2 separate regions of the Homo sapiens genome follow, and region 2 is linked to region 1. Evidence: fine-mapped expression QTL. A gene starts in region 1. The other region holds a variant in brackets. All regions are shown on one strand. Distances are between the middles of the regions. Region 1 holds the start of OXR1 (oxidation resistance 1). Region 2 overlaps OXR1 (oxidation resistance 1).

Evidence for each region.
Region 2: its variant is fine-mapped to the expression of OXR1 in non-classical monocytes (Schmiedel 2018, PIP 0.95).

The regions. Positions count from the first base shown.
Region 1 is chr8:106,265,411-106,274,220 of GRCh38, forward strand. It overlaps OXR1 (oxidation resistance 1), which reads left to right and starts at 4,780. Exons shown (of 17, transcript NM_001198533.2): 1 at 4,780-4,957. RefSeq lists silencers at 4,505-4,754, 4,775-5,134.
Region 2 is chr8:106,712,721-106,721,530 of GRCh38, forward strand. It overlaps OXR1 (oxidation resistance 1), which reads left to right. Exons shown (of 17, transcript NM_001198533.2): 11 at 1,103-1,265. Among named protein-coding and RNA genes, the nearest start is that of ABRA, 53 kb to the right of the region's middle. The variant T/C (reference allele first, on the strand shown) is at 5,485.

The DNA of each region.
Region 1 (8,810 bases):
AAAGAGACACATAGAAGTACCAATAAATGTTGAATATTATTATTAATATTAGTTGATGCACAGTAGTATTTTGAATCCGTTATAATAAAAACATTGTGGAAATAAACTAATGGTCATAGATTTCTTAGTTATATTTGAGAATCTGAGATCACACATTAAACATACTTGTTATTGTAGCATTGGACTCAAAGAGAAGTGAAACGAGTTGTAGCTTTATCAGGATCTTGCTGCTTCTGCAAGAACTAAGCCACGTTTGTGTTAGATTCAGAGGCAAGAAAAGAGCATCCTGATATTTGAAGTACATAATTATCCACATTCTTCTTTCCTGAGGAAAGGGCCATCAGAGCTAAGTCTTTTAGTCAAGAAGCATCTTTGATTCACAAATACTGTGTGATCCTTAATGTCCCATGACTATTATCTAGAATTGTTTCAGCCTGAAAGTGCAGAGAGAGGGTAGAAATGTGCATTTATATCTTTAGTATATATCATTAATGAATCTGTTGTGACATTTATCTATAGTCATGAAATGAAAAAATAATTGGGGCATAAGTGACTTTGAACTACTACTATTTAGTTCTCCAAATTTAATTTTTTTCACAACGGGAAAATAGCTATCAAGAAGACAAACTTTTAATAGCCCTTTAATGAAACTGTCTTGGTATTTCCTTTTCCCTTAAAAAACTCATTTACAAATTGTTTCACATTTCTACCTTGGTTCTGATTTTCTAAAAGCAAATTTGGTATGAAAGAAGTGCAACAGAAAGACAGGCTAGTGTCCAAGTATCTAAAATGGTTTGCCTCTGTGCAATGGAAGGAGAATATGCTCAGTGGTCAGTGCCAATACCTGGAAGTATACCAGATGCTTGGCAGTGTAGCATAGATCTCAGTGAAGGAATTCAAAGTAAGACAAAGTAAAGGAGAAAAGAACGGACTATACAGAGGTATCCCTACACAAAATGGTGAAAGAAGTAGTGTATATTGCATGTCAGCCTACCTCCAGCATCAGCTCTCTCCATGTTTCCTTGACTCCCTGAAAGCAGATGACTTAGTGCCCACCTCATGCATTCCCCGTTTCAGACTTAAATATTCACTTCCTGTCCTATAATCCCTCAATGCATCAGCAAGCACCTATTTGAGCACTGACGAAGATAAAATACACACAAATATAAATTTGCCATTGCCCCAATCCTCCAGAAACTTGCCGTTTAGTGGGGGAGGAGAAGCAAGTATGTAGATAACTAAAACAAAAAGGCAGTGTGGTGTAGAGAGGGACAAAGAACTACAGAGATGAGAACTAGGAGAAGAAAAGAAGAATAATCTGAGGTGTAGGTTAAGATGTGGTATGTGGGAGGCTGAGACAGGAGAATTATTGGAATCCTGGAGGCAGAGGTTGCAGTGAGCTGAGATAGTGCCACTGCACTTCAGCCTGGGCAACAGAGTGAGACTCCGTTTCAGAGAAAAAAAAAAAAATATGTTTGCTGTGGTGTGACAGAGCTAAGGGAGGAGTTCCTAGAAGACAATGTACAAAGTCATGAGAAGAAGTTCAAGGAAAAGATCCTGGATTTGATAAGTTTAACGTAACTATAGAATGCAGTTTAAATGAGATGACTCATGGATTGCATTGATTTATTCCTAGAATAACAAATATTAAAGGAGGTAACAAACAAATTGCATAAGATAAGTAAAGGGAAAAAAGACAGCCAATTATTCAAATAATTCTAGCATAAGAAATAATACAAAACTATAAGGACAGCAGCATTTCCCCCATCTGTTCATGTTTTGAGGCACAATGGGAAAACCCCCACTTTTTATTATCAAATGGTTTACATAATGATCAAGTACATTAGATCAAAACAAAAAAAATGGGCTTTAATAATATGGAAAACATCCTTTTCCTGCAGAGACAGATTGGGGACTGAAAGCGTCAGTTGGCTGGGTGGCTCATTAGCTGTCTTTAATGAGTGGCACCACCTTGGAAATAACCAGGGCCCTGAAATAAAGATGAAAAGGCAACAAAGAGGGGACTCTCTGTTACCCTTAGGCAGGCAAATCAAAGCAACTGAGCCTAAAAAGAGATGGGAAAAGTTCACTTCAAAGCATTATTATTATCTTGCTCATTTCTGAATAACTGAAACCAACGGACCTCCCAACACACTTGCTGTCCTTTTTTTGTCCATGGGGAAACAGGCCAGTCTATGAGTTTACTGGTTATCCATTATTTCCATCTTGCAAACATCCCCTATTCCTTCTTTTGCTAACCAAATACTTTTTTCCCTTTTGAGAATCTTTCATCCCCAAGAGGATGCAGGTGGTTGATTGTGTGAGCCAGGACAGCCAATAAGAGTACACCTTCAAAGATTGATCTGCTCAACAGAACAAGAGACTTGATTTCTTTGTAAGGTTACAAAATTTGTCAACTGTGTAGGGCTGGCACTATGGACATAATGTGAGGGGAATGAAACCAACACAGGAAGCAATGCCGAAAGCAAGTTAGAGAAAGAGAAAATCATATTCTTCCTAATGTTGTTAAGCCCAGGACAAGCCCTGCTATTTCTAGTACTTCTGAGTTACACGGGTCAATGCATTTTCTCTGCCTAAGTTAGAATTGCATCCCTGTCACTTGTTACTTCGAGTCCTCAATGCAGTACGTTTTTGAGCTACACTTTTCCATAGGACACCAAAGAGACTTTGAAATCAAGATTTTCCCTGTTTCATGATTATGGGTAGTGTGCATGCTGTAGCATGAAGATGTTCAGAGTGCCATACCACCTTAAGAATAATTACTGAAAGAGGAAGAATGAAAGCAACCAGGATGAAAGTAAAGTTTATTTTTCACCTTCCTTCACCACTGATAGAAAGGAATGATTTGTGTTGATAGTCTAAGGAAATTCACATTTTGATCTCCCAATGAATCACCTATGGAAAATTAGAAACATGATGTTGTCATTATAAAGTGGCCCTGGTCCTGCAGATAATATTTGCAGCTTCAGTAAAAAAGTAAAAGATCAAACCTTAATTGATTACTTATTTTGGGGTGCACATGGCACTAAATTGCAAGTGGGGATGGAAGGGCGCAAATATCTTAGGAGGGAGGACATCTTGACCCAAATAGACAGATTCCACTACAGTTCTATGAAAAAATCACATGTACATTACTTAGTAGGGTTAGCAAAGTCTAACTAATTTATAATACTGGGAAAACAAAGTAGCTTTATCACAGAGTCTGAACTGAGATAATTATAAAATACATACCTAGTCTATACATTGCTTGTAGAAGATTCTCAGTAAAATCTTTCTGATAGAATAAAAATTAAACGCTATCAGTTTCAACATAACAGAAAATTTAAGCTGCGAATGCTCGTAAAGAAATTAGGTAAAAATAATGGAGAACAAAACCCGCAATCGGCTTATCAATCGGCTTACTGTTGACACGCCACGCCACTCAGAATAGTATCTAATTTTCTTGATCCCTTATCTCAGGTAAAGCTATTGACTCGGGGAAATAGGTTATGCGGAAACCATGAAAGTTTCTAGTCTGGCCGACCCTAGGTTCAACACTCTATTATTCCAGACAAGCGATGAGCTCCTGTCGCTAAATTTCAACATCCCTGTCTGTCAAATGGGAATAATAATGATTCTCTCATTGGGTGGCTGTGAGAGGTGAGTGAAACAAGACGGAAATTTGACCCAGGAAATATCTGTACCTCTTACTTTAAAGAACAGAATTAAAAAATAATAATAAATGATCAGAAATTAAGGTAGAATAGAGTGAACACTAATAGCGGGAAATAGCTAATTTGCAGGTGAGGTGGCTGAAAGGCTCCTACGCTTGAAGTGTTTGCTGGATGCACAGGAGATCTGGGATACATCCCGAACTCGGCAACAGGACCAGCTCCTTTCCTCAGGGTTACAGAACAGCCAGGTTCCAGTTCAGGTCTGGGAATCTACCCATCCAGAGTTTGCGCCCTTTTCGTTTTGCAATTTAAAACCGGGTTGGAGGGGGAAGGAGTGAAGGCAGCATGCGGAGAAAGTAAATTACAGTTCAGGTGACAGGAACAAGAAAATCTCCAAGGTCAGGGTGGGGTGTCAACGAATTATGCAAAACACTGCGGAATGAGGAGTCACAAACGCCTTGCAAAGAATTCTGAATTTTAGAAGCTCTTTGCAGAACCCCCTTCAGCCCGCTCCAAGCTGCCTTGGGTCCCTTTCTAGGCTGTCAGACTTCGCCTTCCTTTCCTCCTTGTTTTTCCCAGCAACCAAAGCATCTGAAGAACATTTTTTTCCTCCGTAAATCTGAACAAATTTCCTTGCAGCTTTCCTTGCAGAAGCTTTTTTATCGCTTTAACAAAACTTTCCTCTGCTTCTCTAGGGAGAGCCTAGTATTAGAGCTGCCCGACAGGCGGGACCCCGAAATCGGGGCAGCTCTGGCTTAGTCCAGGCTATTCGAGTGGGCGCCTGAACTGGAGGCGCCGTCTCCACCGGGATGGGGATCCTAGTGCAGGCAGACGCCTGGCAGGACTCGGCGAGCTGGGGTCCCCACCGCGGTAGCCAGAGCAGAAACCCGAACCCCAGCCAGAGGGGCCGCGCGCGGGGAGGGGTGCGCGCTAAGCCAGCGTGGCTTCCGCAGGAGCTATTTTTAGCGGTGCGTGCCTCCCCCCGCCCCCGGCGTGGTAGCCTCCGGCTCGCGGCGCCCCACGGCTCCTCTCAGTCTCCCCCGCCGCTGCCGGCTCTTGGTAGCTTCCACGCGGGCAGGTCCGGAAACTGAGCATGTCTGCAAGCGCTCAGCGGCGCCGGCAGCAGCGGGGCTAGAGCTGGGCTGCGTCAGGCTGAGCCCATTCACCTCGCGGCCACAGGAGCTCAGCGCCGGCGCCGCGCCGCCCAGCCCCGCCGAGAGGGGCGCACTCGCCGCCGCGGGGCCCGCCGCCGCTCACCGCAGCCCCCTCCTGGCGACCCGCAAGTAAGTTTGTGAGGCTGCTGGGCGTTAGGGCGAGGGCTTGGCGCCCGGGGGAGTCCAGGAGGGATAGCGAGAGGCGCGGCTGGCGCCCGGGAGAGCCGGCTGGCCTCTGCCCCCTGTGCCTGGCGCCTCTCCGAGCCACTTAGCCAATTTGAAAGCGGGTGGCCATTGGGATGCTCGAGCGGGGACGACGGGCAGAGCAGGAGGGCAGAACTAGCTCCAGCGGGGGCCCAGAGGGCGGACTTGGGAAGAAGGAAAGACCGCGCGGCGAGGGAGGAGACCGGGCGGCGAGGGAGGAGACCGGGCGGGGAGGCTGGGTTTGGGGCGCGGGAGCCCGGCCAGGGACAGCCGCAGAAGGAAAGTGGGGGTGTCGCCGGGGGATAGAGTGGGAGCAGCGTGAGAGCAGTGTTGGGGGCGCAGAGTGGAGGGCAAGCGTGTCTTGAACAGAACGGCAGGAGGATGGGTGGAAAGTGGGGCGCGTGGAAAGCGGATTTGGACGAGAGCAAAGGACGCCGGTGGAAGGGACAGTGGGCTCCGGAGGGGCGAGTGGATTCGGATAATTTGGGGAATCAGTAAAAGGCTAGGGGGCACATCATGATGGAGTCAGCCTGGAATCTGTCTCCCGCTAGAGTACCCGAGGCCACATGTTGGGAACTGGCTGGGGAAAGGATGGATGTAGAAAGTGGCCTGGAGGGCCGACTGGAAAATCGCTGAGGGATTTGGGTGAAGAGGGGGGGAGCTGTGCAGTATCGGGCGGAGGAACTGGGCTGCTGGTAGGGCCTGAAAGGTTCAGGAGAGGGTTGGAGGCTTCCCCGTGCCGCCCCTTGAATAGTGATTTAGTACTGTTATCTGAGGTTCACTTTCACCCCTGGCTCCTCCTCCGTCTACTACCCGGCTTGGACGCACCTCGGCTCGCTGTAGGCGAGCTTTAGGAGATTTAAATAGACATTAGGCAGTGGGGAAGGTAGTCGTTTACGGGGGGAGCTGCTCGGGCTTCCGTTCAGTGGTTCCCGGCACGCTCAGGGTGCAGTGTAGGGTCTGAATGTGTGTATTGCGGGGGTAGGGGGAGTGGTGTCAGTTCTAGGCCACAGGAATTCGTGGTCTGGCCCCAGAGGTGCGGTGTTTTTGGCCGGGAAGTCAGGCAGAAGTCTGCAGCGTGCAACTCGCAGCGGGGCGTGTGTGTGCGTGTGTGCGCGCGCGTGTGCATGTTTCCGGCCCGGGGTCGCGTGTGTGGCTGCAGCCTGTCTCCGTGACAAGAAGATCCAGGGATCTACGGGCGGCACGGGGAAGGGATTAAGGGGAACATACTTCCCTACGTCTTTTCTGCCTCCTTTTCCCAGGGTAGCATTCTTTGCTTATCCAATGATGCCTCTTTCTAACCTCTCCCTCTCCACTTACATCCCAAACCTGATGCGGGTCTTCTCTGATTCGGCACTCTAAGGAGGACTCAGCCGCCGGCTGCGACCACCGTGGACTCCCTCTATGGAAGGGAATCCTGGGAGTCCCGGCCGTCAGAGGGGTTCCCAAATCCAAAGGGTCCATCTCCAAGGCGTCACTCCAGGGGTCCGCGGTTCACTTTGCTGCCCCTTGCAGGTGATGCTGTGATTGTTGCCTGCGGACTGGGAAGCACGATGGCTCCAAAAGGCCAGCGGGGCCGAGAAGCAGGGACAGAGACCAGCATTTAAGGGATCTCTGGTGGGGGCCTCCCTGGAGTTCTCCACATGTAAATATAGCGAAAAAAGAAAACACTACGTTACTAGAATAAACACGTCCTAAAATTTCTGTGCAAAAACACCTTTTTGAACAGCAAAGATTTCACCCACCAAAACAAGGAAGCAAGAAGCTTCCACAGTGTGCAGGATCCGAAACAGGACCGGCCCGGCGTTGGGTGAGAGTGGGGGAGGGGTTGTCGGCTTCTCCATCCAGCTTGCCATGTTCTGTCGTCGGTTTCACATTTTCAGAGAGACTTTACCAGATGCAGGAAATGAGGATGAAGGCAACTCTGGAAGGATGCAAAGAAGGGAGAGCAAGCACTGTACCTACTGTCTGCTGTCTAAGAGGGCTGGTCTCATAACTAAAAGGTCCAGTCCCTGAGATCTTGTGTGCAACCGTCAGAAATAGTTCAGGACATCAAATTGCACAGAGAAGATTCAGATGAAGGGAAACAAGAACTCTGTGGAAAACTGTTGGGGACAGTGGCACGAGTTGTCTTGCAAGGTGATGTCTGTCCCGTGGAGGGACACAAGAGCGAGGACAGCATGGTTCTAATGGCCAGGGCATGTCTTCTTATTCCATGTGACAGTGGCTGGCTGAGTTGCTAGTACGTTTTTGAAATATACCCTTTGAAATATGTTGATTATTCTGGACATCTGTAAGGTGGGAGATTTGAATAAAAAGACTTCTGCTGTCATTATTGGCTTTTATGGCTATGATTTTTTTCAGTCATTATTATAAATCATGTGAAGGTAAAATAAATGATCATTTTAGCCATTCTGTTCTGCACAGAATGCTGTTCAAATAAAACATCATCTGATATGTTTGCCTGTATTGTTTTGTTTGGGGGTCACGGAAGAGGGAAAGTCGGCCAAATTGATTAGGGTATCATATAAAAGCAGAGATTAGGTCCGGGTAGATCTTTTGAGTGTGTGCAGGAAAAGGCTTCATTATAGAATGCTAAATTTAATGTGAGATGAGAGAATCTTTTACTCCCGATCTCCTGCATTTGAAATACAAAGGATTGTACCCTTGGGCTGGTTCCTGGTCCTTAAGTGGAAGCCTAACTGGACACTTTTTTTCTGGAGGATTGTTCCCTAAATCCTGGGAAGCTTTAGAAAATAGTCAATGGAATTTTTGTTGCCCTAAGATAAAGTCATTACAAAGAAAAAAAAAAAAGAAGAAGAAGAAGAAAGTAAAGGTGGTGAAATGGCTTGAGGAGGCAGAATGAGAAATAGAGATGTCAGTCAAAGTGGAAGAAGAGAAATCACTTTCTCTCACTTTAGGGATAGATCTTGTTGATAGGCTTAGAGCAGTGATTCTCCACTGGGGGCAGTTTTACCCCCTAGGGGATACTGACAATGTCTGGAGACATTTTTGGTTGTCACAACTTTGGGGGAGAGGTGCTGCTGGTGTCTTGTGGGCCAGGCCAGGGATGCTGTGAACATTCTACAATAAACTGGACAGCCTTCTGCAATTATCCAGCCCAAATGTCAGTAATGCTTAATTTGAGAAACTTGGCTTTCAATAAGATGTGCTTAACATTAAAAGCAACCCCTTTTAGGATACTTTCAAATATTCCTATTGGAAGTCCATCTTGAAAATCAAGAGTAGTTAATAAGAGACTTTCTTTGCAAAATGGTCCATATTCAAAAACACTTGTTTTAAGGAAATTAAAGAGGCTTCCTTTTGGCAGAACTGTTTTTCAGCCTTTAAAAAACAAACAAACAAAAAATCTTAAGACATATTGAGAATTTCTAAAAGGTGAATCATATGCATATGTGCATGTGAGCTAAGTAAACATTGTTTGATAAAACCAAATCAGAACTATTCTGCTGTACTAATTTCACTGAACTTGTTTGGTAATTGCTTTTTAAAAGCGATAATCTTAATTTTTAATTCAAATGAATTTAATTAAAATTACAACTTGTAAGTTCTTTATCAAGTGAGGGATTGAACAATCAGAGAAAAATGTTAGACAAATATTTATTTGAAACACCCCAAAATATTCCAAAATGAAATCTTAGTATTTATAGGTATCTACATAGAAAGGTAAGAATGTCGTATAATTTTCTCGTATTGTATTTAATTTCCATTTGAAATCGACAGCATGGAGCGTATTGAGAAGCATCAAGCCTTTCGA
Region 2 (8,810 bases), 450 kb after region 1:
ATTGGCTTAATCTTAAAATATGATTTGCATAATTGATGAATACCTGAAAGGGACAGAGCCTGATATTCAAACGTTCCAGTGATGTTGAAATCACTACAATGAGAAATGTAACTATATTTAGTTAAAATGGACATAAAAATTTAGTTTTTCTCATTATTCTTGGTTTTAATGTTTACATGGAATTCCCTATTTTAATATTCATTCTTTTATCTTGGTTAATATTCATTACAAATTAGTATTATTAGGATTCTGATCTTTATTGTAGACATAAAACTTAGGAAAACTGCTGCATAGATAGTGAGAAATTGATAAAAAGGTAAGATGTTACATTGAAAGATAAAATGTAGCACCTTTTAAATATGTTAGCTGCCACGTAAAGAATGGCAATTTTAAAAATCATTATATTGAAAATATAATTTCTAGAACCATGGTTATTAACTGGTATATGTTAGCTGAAAGTTATATAATCAATTTTCAAAAACATGTTAATTAAAACCAATAAAACGTAGATATTTGAAATGTGTGTGTGACTCTCAAATACATTTATCAGGGAATGTAACAACTGGCTTTAGTGTAGTAAACAAAACATTGAAAAGGGGAACCTGAGATTTCTAAGATTAGATCATCTGTCTCTCAACACTGTATGTTCCTAGTATCATTTAAAATTTAAGGACATTACATTTCTATTAACTTGGAAAATTGTATATAATGTCTCAAAATAGGCCATTAATAAATTGTTTACTTGTATTTTAGATCATTAGATTATTGTAGGAATGAGGTCAAAGTTGTGTATCTAATTTCCTTTTCCATCACTAGTGTCTTTAAAGAAGAAAAGCTTTATAATATACAACATCTGAACTAGTCAAACACATGCCAAGGAAAATCTTAATTTGGTTTTCTAAAGAACAACCTGACAGAATATAGCCAAATAAAATGTTTAAGTTAATGCCTTCCTGATAGTAGACCTTTTATATTAATATAAAACAATATATTTTGTGTATATTTTAAGTCTTCAAGATTTATCAAGATATTTTACAAATATAATTTTTTAATTCTGGCAGCACAGAATACTAGGTATATTAATAGTCACTTCTCCTAACAGGACAGATCACTTGTATGCCTTCTTCATTCAGTGGAGTCCAGAAATATATGCAGAAGATACTGGCGAATATACCAGAGAACCTGGATTTATAGTAGTAAAAAAGATTGAGGAGTCTGAAACAATTGAGGATTCTAGTAATCAAGCAGCAGCCAGAGAATGGGAGGTAAGGAGAAAAATATGAAGATTTTAGTCATCTTTTTAGTTTGTATGAATTTATAGCTTTATGGTAGTACAAAGTATAAGTGATGTTTCCACAAAAGAGGAATTTTTTTAAAGGTCAGGTTCACTATCCGTGTTTATTTGTGGTTATTGAATGAATCTGAATAGTGACTTTAATACTATATTTGTCATTCTGCTTTTGCTTTAAAATACTAGAAAACCCACTAGCAATAAAATGACTTTTATTGAGTGTCTTATAGAATATTTAGTTTAGGAAAGATTAACATTATGGCAAAGAAGGAAATAATTTTAATTTTGCTGTTATATTAATTTTCATAAAACATCGATTTCACATCTGATTTGTTTTAATTTCATCTCCTCCATGGAGGAGGTACGGCAGTCATTTAACACATCTGTGCATAGTATTTGCATAGCATCTATACAAATTACTACTCCTTTCTATGTTTCAGACCTAAGCATTATCTTGACTTAAATTTTTCAATAATAATTTTAAGGAAATAAGCAGGTGCTAATTTTATAAAGTAGTAGAAATTTTATATGCTCAGATTTACTGAACTTGTTTAAATGGTCAAAGTTATACTAACAAACTTTTTGTAACTCCTCTTAGATATATCTTAAGATTACATATTACCTTTTACATGCTTTGTCTTATAAGGTTGGTAGGGTGGCAATATCTGTTGGTGTTGCCTAGATTAGTCTCTTCTTGATGCATTAGAAAATGTAGAGCAGATGCTAAAATGTTATAATAAATGTAATCAAATTTTTTTATTCATTGGGTGTTAATGTTTGTGGCTGTTAATGTGATATGAATGTATCTTGCATGCACTTAACATGTATAGTAATTGAAGGTATACATGGCTTGTCTTTTGTTTAAAATGCAAACTGATTTGGAATGTGTCTAATGTCATTCTGTGTAGTATATACAGCATCAGTTTCTACTGTGACTCCAATATAAGGGAGGGAAAGAAGAACATATCGACCATGTATTTTGGGTTATTTTAATACTTAAACCAACATTATCAATCTTCATACCAGCTTTATTCATAATGGCCCCAAATTGGAAAGTCTCATTAGCAGGAGAATGGATGAATACATTTTTGAATACTTACAGAATTCCAAATAACAATAAAAAAGATCTACTGGTACAGGCAATGACATGGATGAATTTTACAAATAATATGTTGAGTAAAAGAAGCCTGACACAAATGAACATATACTATGTAATTTCATTTACACGAAGTTCAAAAGGGCAAAACTAGTCAGAAATCCATCACACTACTTGATACTGGGCTGTGACAGGGTGGCTCAGGGACAGGAGGGAACTTTATTGCGTTCTGGGGATGTTCTATATGTTACTCTCAGTGGTGGTTACTTGGGTGATTACATATGTAAAATATATATAATATATATAATACGTATATAATATATATATGTATCTTATATATATATATATTATATACATCTATGTCCCTGAGCTGTGTTTTTAAGATTAGCTTTAGAAGGTACTTAAAATAGCCCAGGTGATCAAAGATACGTACCTAACTAAGGCAGCAACAGTTGAAGGTAGAGTGGAAGGTGATGAAATAAAGCTAGAAGAAAAGGTATTAGCTAGCTAATTACACAGGATTCAGTGACAACCTGGTAACCATAAAGTTATCTCCAGCTTGGGTGGCACGGTGGATGGCAGAATTGTCAGTCATGAACGGGAATTGAGAGCTTTCTCTCCATTGGGGTTGGAGTACTTAACTTTGGAAATAAGAGACTATTGACTATTTTGATTCAAAGGAACTGTCTCAGTTTCTGTGCAAGACTCTGCAGGGTATAATTTCTAAAGGAAAAATAAATCTCCTCACCAGTCCTTTGACCGGAATTGGTGCAGTTCAAAAGAAAATGGAAGAGAAAAAAATAATTTTGGAAACTCCTTGCTACATTGTCTGAAAATATTACCGCAGTATCCAGTATAGCAGCACTAGCCATATGTGGCTATTGAGTACTTGAAATTCATGTAATGCCACTAAGGGACTGCATTTTTAGTTTTAATTATTAATTAAAAACCGATACTTGGTTCCATTATTGGACAATTTTTAAATATATTAGGAATAACTTAGATATATGATCTACTTTTTCAACTGTAAATTTCATGAAATCTAAATATGATCTAAATCAGTCTAAATCTAATTAAGGTCAAGTATTTCCTATGAAAATTTAGTGCCTGAATTGAGATGTGCTGTAGTGTAAAATATTCTACTTCCTATAGCCACTAGCCACATGTAACCATTGAGCATTTAAAATGTGGCCAATCTCAATTGAAATGAGCTGTAGTATAAAATACACACTGGAGGCCGGGCGCGGTGGCTCACGCCTGTAATCCCAGCACTTTGGGAGGCCGAGGCGGGTGGATCATGAGGTCAGGAGATCGAGACCATCCTGGCTAACAAGGTGAAACCCCGTCTCTACTAAAAATACAAAAAATTAGCCGGGCGCGGTGGTGGGTGCCTGTAGTCCCAGCTACTCGGGAGGCTGAGGCAGGAGAATGGCGTGAACCCGGGAAGCGGAGCTTGCAGTGAGCCGAGATTGCGCCACTGCAGTCCGCAGTCCGGCCTGGGCGACAGAGCGAGACTCCGTCTCAAAAAAAAAAAAAAAAAAAAAAAAAAAAAAATACACACTGGATTTTAATGACTTAGAATGGAAAGAAAAAAGAATGTAAACATCTTGTTTGTTTATACTGATTAATATTGAAGTGATAATATTTTGAATACATTAGGTTAAATAAACTATATTAATACAATTAATTTCACTTTTTTAATGTGGTGTCTAGAAAATTTACAATTGTAATGTATCTTACATTATATTGCTCTTGTGCAGTGCAGGTCTATGCCTCATGGATACTAAGTGCCTAAAAAAATGTTTGTTAAACTAGGGAGGCCGAGGGTAACAAATAAAAAATGTTAAACTAGGGTGGATCACGAGGTCAGGAGTTTGAGACCAGCCTGGCCAATATGGTAAAACCCTGTCTCTACTAAAAATACAAAAATTAGCTGGACGTGGTAGCACACGCCTGTAGTCCCAGTTGCTCGGGAGGCTGAGGCAGGAGAATCACTTGAACCTGGGAGGCGGAGATTGCAGTGAGCCAAGATCACACCACTGCACTCCAGCCTGGGCAACAGAGTGAGACTCCATCTCAAAAAAAATAAATAAATAAAATAAAAATGTTTGTTAAACTAATGAGTACTCATTTAAGTGAAAGAGTAATTTTAAATGTTAACATGATTTATTTTAAAACAGGAAGAATTTGGCTAAAGCCCTTATATAAAACAGTAGTACTTCAGAATGTGCCGTGATGTTTTTTATTTTTTTGTTCTACAAAGGAATGGAGAATAGGTGTCCTAGAATTTAGGATGAACTTGTTATGGCTACCAACTTGGGCATCAGTTAGATTTAAACTAACACCTCTACTCACTGTTATTCTGCTTTAGTGATACTTAAAAAAGATCTTTATTATCCCTGACTGTTACTCAAGCAGAAATATATTGCTAGCCAGAAATGTATACATTGACTGGGGAAGTTTGTATATGATAAATTTGGTAAACTTATTGTTTGCTTTTTTCTCCCTTTCCCTATGTAAGTGTCATAAGGCAGGGATTTGTCAATTTCATACACTATTATATCTTCAGAACTAAGAATTGTATAGGCATATAGTTCATTCTCAATATTTATTAATGGATAAACTTGGGCGTAGATTAAAATTAAGGTATAAAGCTTCTAATCTTTCAAGATTGCTCTATTTCCTGAAATAAGTTCTTACATCAGTTGTAGTAAATATTTTCATAAAGCCATAGATTCTGGACATTTTAACTAATAGTCCACAGTCTGTCATTTACATTTTTTTTTGTTCTGTTTAAACATATTCAGTGAAAGGGAATTTGTTACCTCAAAGGGCAATACTTTACATTTTAGGACAGCTCTGTTAGAAAGTTATTTGTTACAATAAGCTTAAGGAAACATATCTTTGTAAATTGGATTCATTTATCTTTATTCTGTCTTCCAATGCAAGTCAATAACAACAAGAAACATTTTCTATTTACTGCGATAGTGTGAAAATGTTTGTCTTCCCTTTTAATCTTGTTTCAGAATTATTTTTTCCAGTACTTCAACTGTTTAACTTTATGAACTCTATTCAGATCTTATTCATATCAGTACCC[T/C]AAAATATGTTAAAAGAGTTCATAAACTATGGCACCCCAAATTACTAAAATGTACACTTGGGATAGCAGGAAAAATTCCGTAATATTTTTAAAAATTTTAATTTCCAAATATGAACATTGAAGACCAGTCCTATTGAAGACAGACAGAAACATATATTTACTAAGAAAAAGAAAATTTAGCCAAATTTTAAGGTGGTCAGGAGTAAAAGTTCCTAATGATAAATCAGTTCCTAAGTATTTGGATAAAGGATCTGAGAAATACTATTCTTACTGCTCACGATGTGTAAAGGACTGAATTTCCTCTTTTTGTAGTGTTACTTTGTATGCCACATGATAAAGAGTACTTTGGTGTGGGTCGGGCGTGGTGGCTCACGCCTGTAATCCCAGCACTTTGGGAGGCCGAGACAGGTGGATCACGAGGTCAGGAGATCGAGACCATCCTGGCTAACATGGTGAAACCCCGTCTCTACTAAAAATACAAAAAATTAGCCGGGCGTGGTGGCGGGCGCTTCTTGTTGTAGCTACTCGGGAGGCTGAGGCAGGAGAATGGCGTGAACCTGGGAGGTGGAGCGTGCAGTGAGCCAAGATCATGCCACTGCACTGCAGCCTGGGCGACAGAGCGAGACTCCACCTCAAAAAAAAAAAAAAGGAGCTATGCCTGAATTAATTGCGTCAACATGGCTGCTATTGATAAGAAAGCATGTTTTTAAACAATCAAGGCACAAAATGATTAAGGAAACCTTTCTTCATAGTGAACCAAACTTATGTTTTTGGTGTGATACCCAAATAAAAGAAATATGCATTATGAGTCTTGCTTTTGGGGATCTGATAACCTTATTTGATAACTGAGAAGGAACTACTTATTACAGTCTTTCCCCTGATTTCTGCCGGTATTCAACACAGGAAGTCAATAAGTATATCCAGTGTTGTGAGGATACTGTTTGATGTGGGGCTTTGCAGTTCTGTGATAAATATTACTTTCTGTTTTTTGATACAGATTTTTTATGCCTTTTCACTGAAAAGGGAAGTGCTCTAATGGCATTTTAACAAATTGTCAGGCAAGTCCTGAGGTGAAGATGAGGCAGAATGCCTATTGACATCTGCTATTTCGTGATGATCGCACTTTTGTTCAATAAATATACAAAAATAAAAGATTAATAGTAAAACAAATTCACATGTGCCATTCAGCTTCATCAGCTTATTTCTTCTGTGTCCCTCCTTTTCTCCAATTGTTCATAGTTATTCAAATGTCATAAAAATATTTAGAATACATGTAATATGTACAGTATGTATTTTTACAATTTGTTTTTTGAGTCATGATCCAACTAAGTTCTCAAATGCTGCAGTTAGTTAAAATATCTCTTAAGTCTCTCTAAATGTAGGTTCCTCCTCCATTGCTTTGCTTTGCTTTTTTATTTCAGTTTTTAAGAAATCAGATTTTTTTTCTGTAGAATGTCACACAGTCTGGAATATGCTGTTTGCATCCCCATAGTGTCTGTTAACATGTTATTCTACCACTTGAATGATTGATAGATCTAGAGCAATACACTTAAGTATAGATTATCATCTTTATTTTACAGATAATTTCTTTGTATTTTTTTATTTATTTTATTTTTTTTGAGATGGAGTCTCCGTCTGTCGCTCAGGCTGGAGTGCAGTGGCGTCATCTTGGCTCACTGCAAGCTCCGCCTCCTGGATTCACGCCATTCTCCTGCCTCAGCTTCCCGAGCAGCTGGGACTACAGGCGCCCGCCACCACGCCCGGCTAATTTTTTTGTATTTTTAGTAGAGACGGAGTTTCATCGTGTTAGCTAGGATGGTCTCAATCTCCTGCCCTCATGATCCGCCTGCCTTGGCCTCCCAAAGTGCTGGGATTACAGGCGTGAGCCACCGTGTCTGGCCCAGATAATTTCTTTAAGCTGGTTTTTTATTTGGCTAAAATTCTCTTAGTGGTTAATCTCTAATTCAGAGCCTATACCTTTTCCACCATACCAAGTACTCAACTTTGGCGGAACCTTTGCATCATGATGGGGAGCTTTCAAACATATCATTGCCAAGGTCACAAATCAGACCAATTAAATCAGAATAATTGGGGCTAGGACCTAGTTATCAGTGTTGTTTAAAGCTACCTAGGTAGTTACATTGTGCAGTCAAGGTGCGAAAACTAGTATACCACCATGCCACAACTTCAGGTGTTGTGTTAAACATATACAATATTAAGACTGTGGAAGACTCTTTAGACTATATTGATTATAATATAGATCAGCTTTTGAGTTCCTGTCATGCAAGTTATATGAAATACTTTTCATATTCCTTTCATCTGGGCTGCTGCATCAAAAACATAAATTTGGTTCACTATGGAAAAAGGTTTGTTTAATCATTTTGTGCCTTGATTTTTAAGAAAACATATTTTCTCCTCAGTAACAGCCATGCAGATACAATTGATGTTGTCATAGCTCCCTTACATACCACAGGACTTCCATCATGTTGTGTACTCAGAGATACTACAAGGAGAGGAAGATCAAAAAACATACCAGGCTGTAAGTCAATGATCTTTGAACTTTGTCTTCTTCAACTTTGTCCATCAAATACCCTTTAAAATTTAATATATTTGGCAAGTGCCTGAGGATCCAGTAGTATAGCTTAAAGGAGTGACCACCACAATAAGCTCAGATTCATGTAAAACTTTTCATTCAGCTTTATAATTTATTTGTTGTAATATAAAGATGAATTTGGAATTTCTTATCATGAAGTCAAAATGGTAATACTGTAAGTTGAATCGCTTTTATCCTGCCATCATTTATCATGAGACATTACATGCTGGACAATATCAGCATCCACCCCAAGTACCAACTTCAAGAGGCTGTATACTAGAATTTTCTGAAAGTCAAGGATTCATTGTGTCACATGTTCAGTATGCCAGTCTTGCTGCTTGACCACACAGGCCTCAAAGGTGGAGCTTTTTATGCTAACATTGCTTTTTGGTTCCTTTCCTTTGGATTGACTTTTCCAGTCCTTTTGGGATAAAAGCTGGCAGAGAAAGCTTTCCAAAATTTTTCATCTCTAATTTTATACCACATGTACTTCAGTATCTTTCATACTACAAACCTAATTAAAGTATCCAGTTCTCCTAGGATGATAAATAAAAACAGCTAAGAAACTGGTTTTATTAAATCAACTTTACTTGATTTATTTAGTCTCCCACACATTTACTTGATTAAATTTTAAGAACGAATTTACTAAGATTATGTGTTGATAGGGTGTGTAACAGTATTTTTCATTCTTAAAATGATTCGTATTTGAATAAAATTGCTCTGGCTTCCCTCT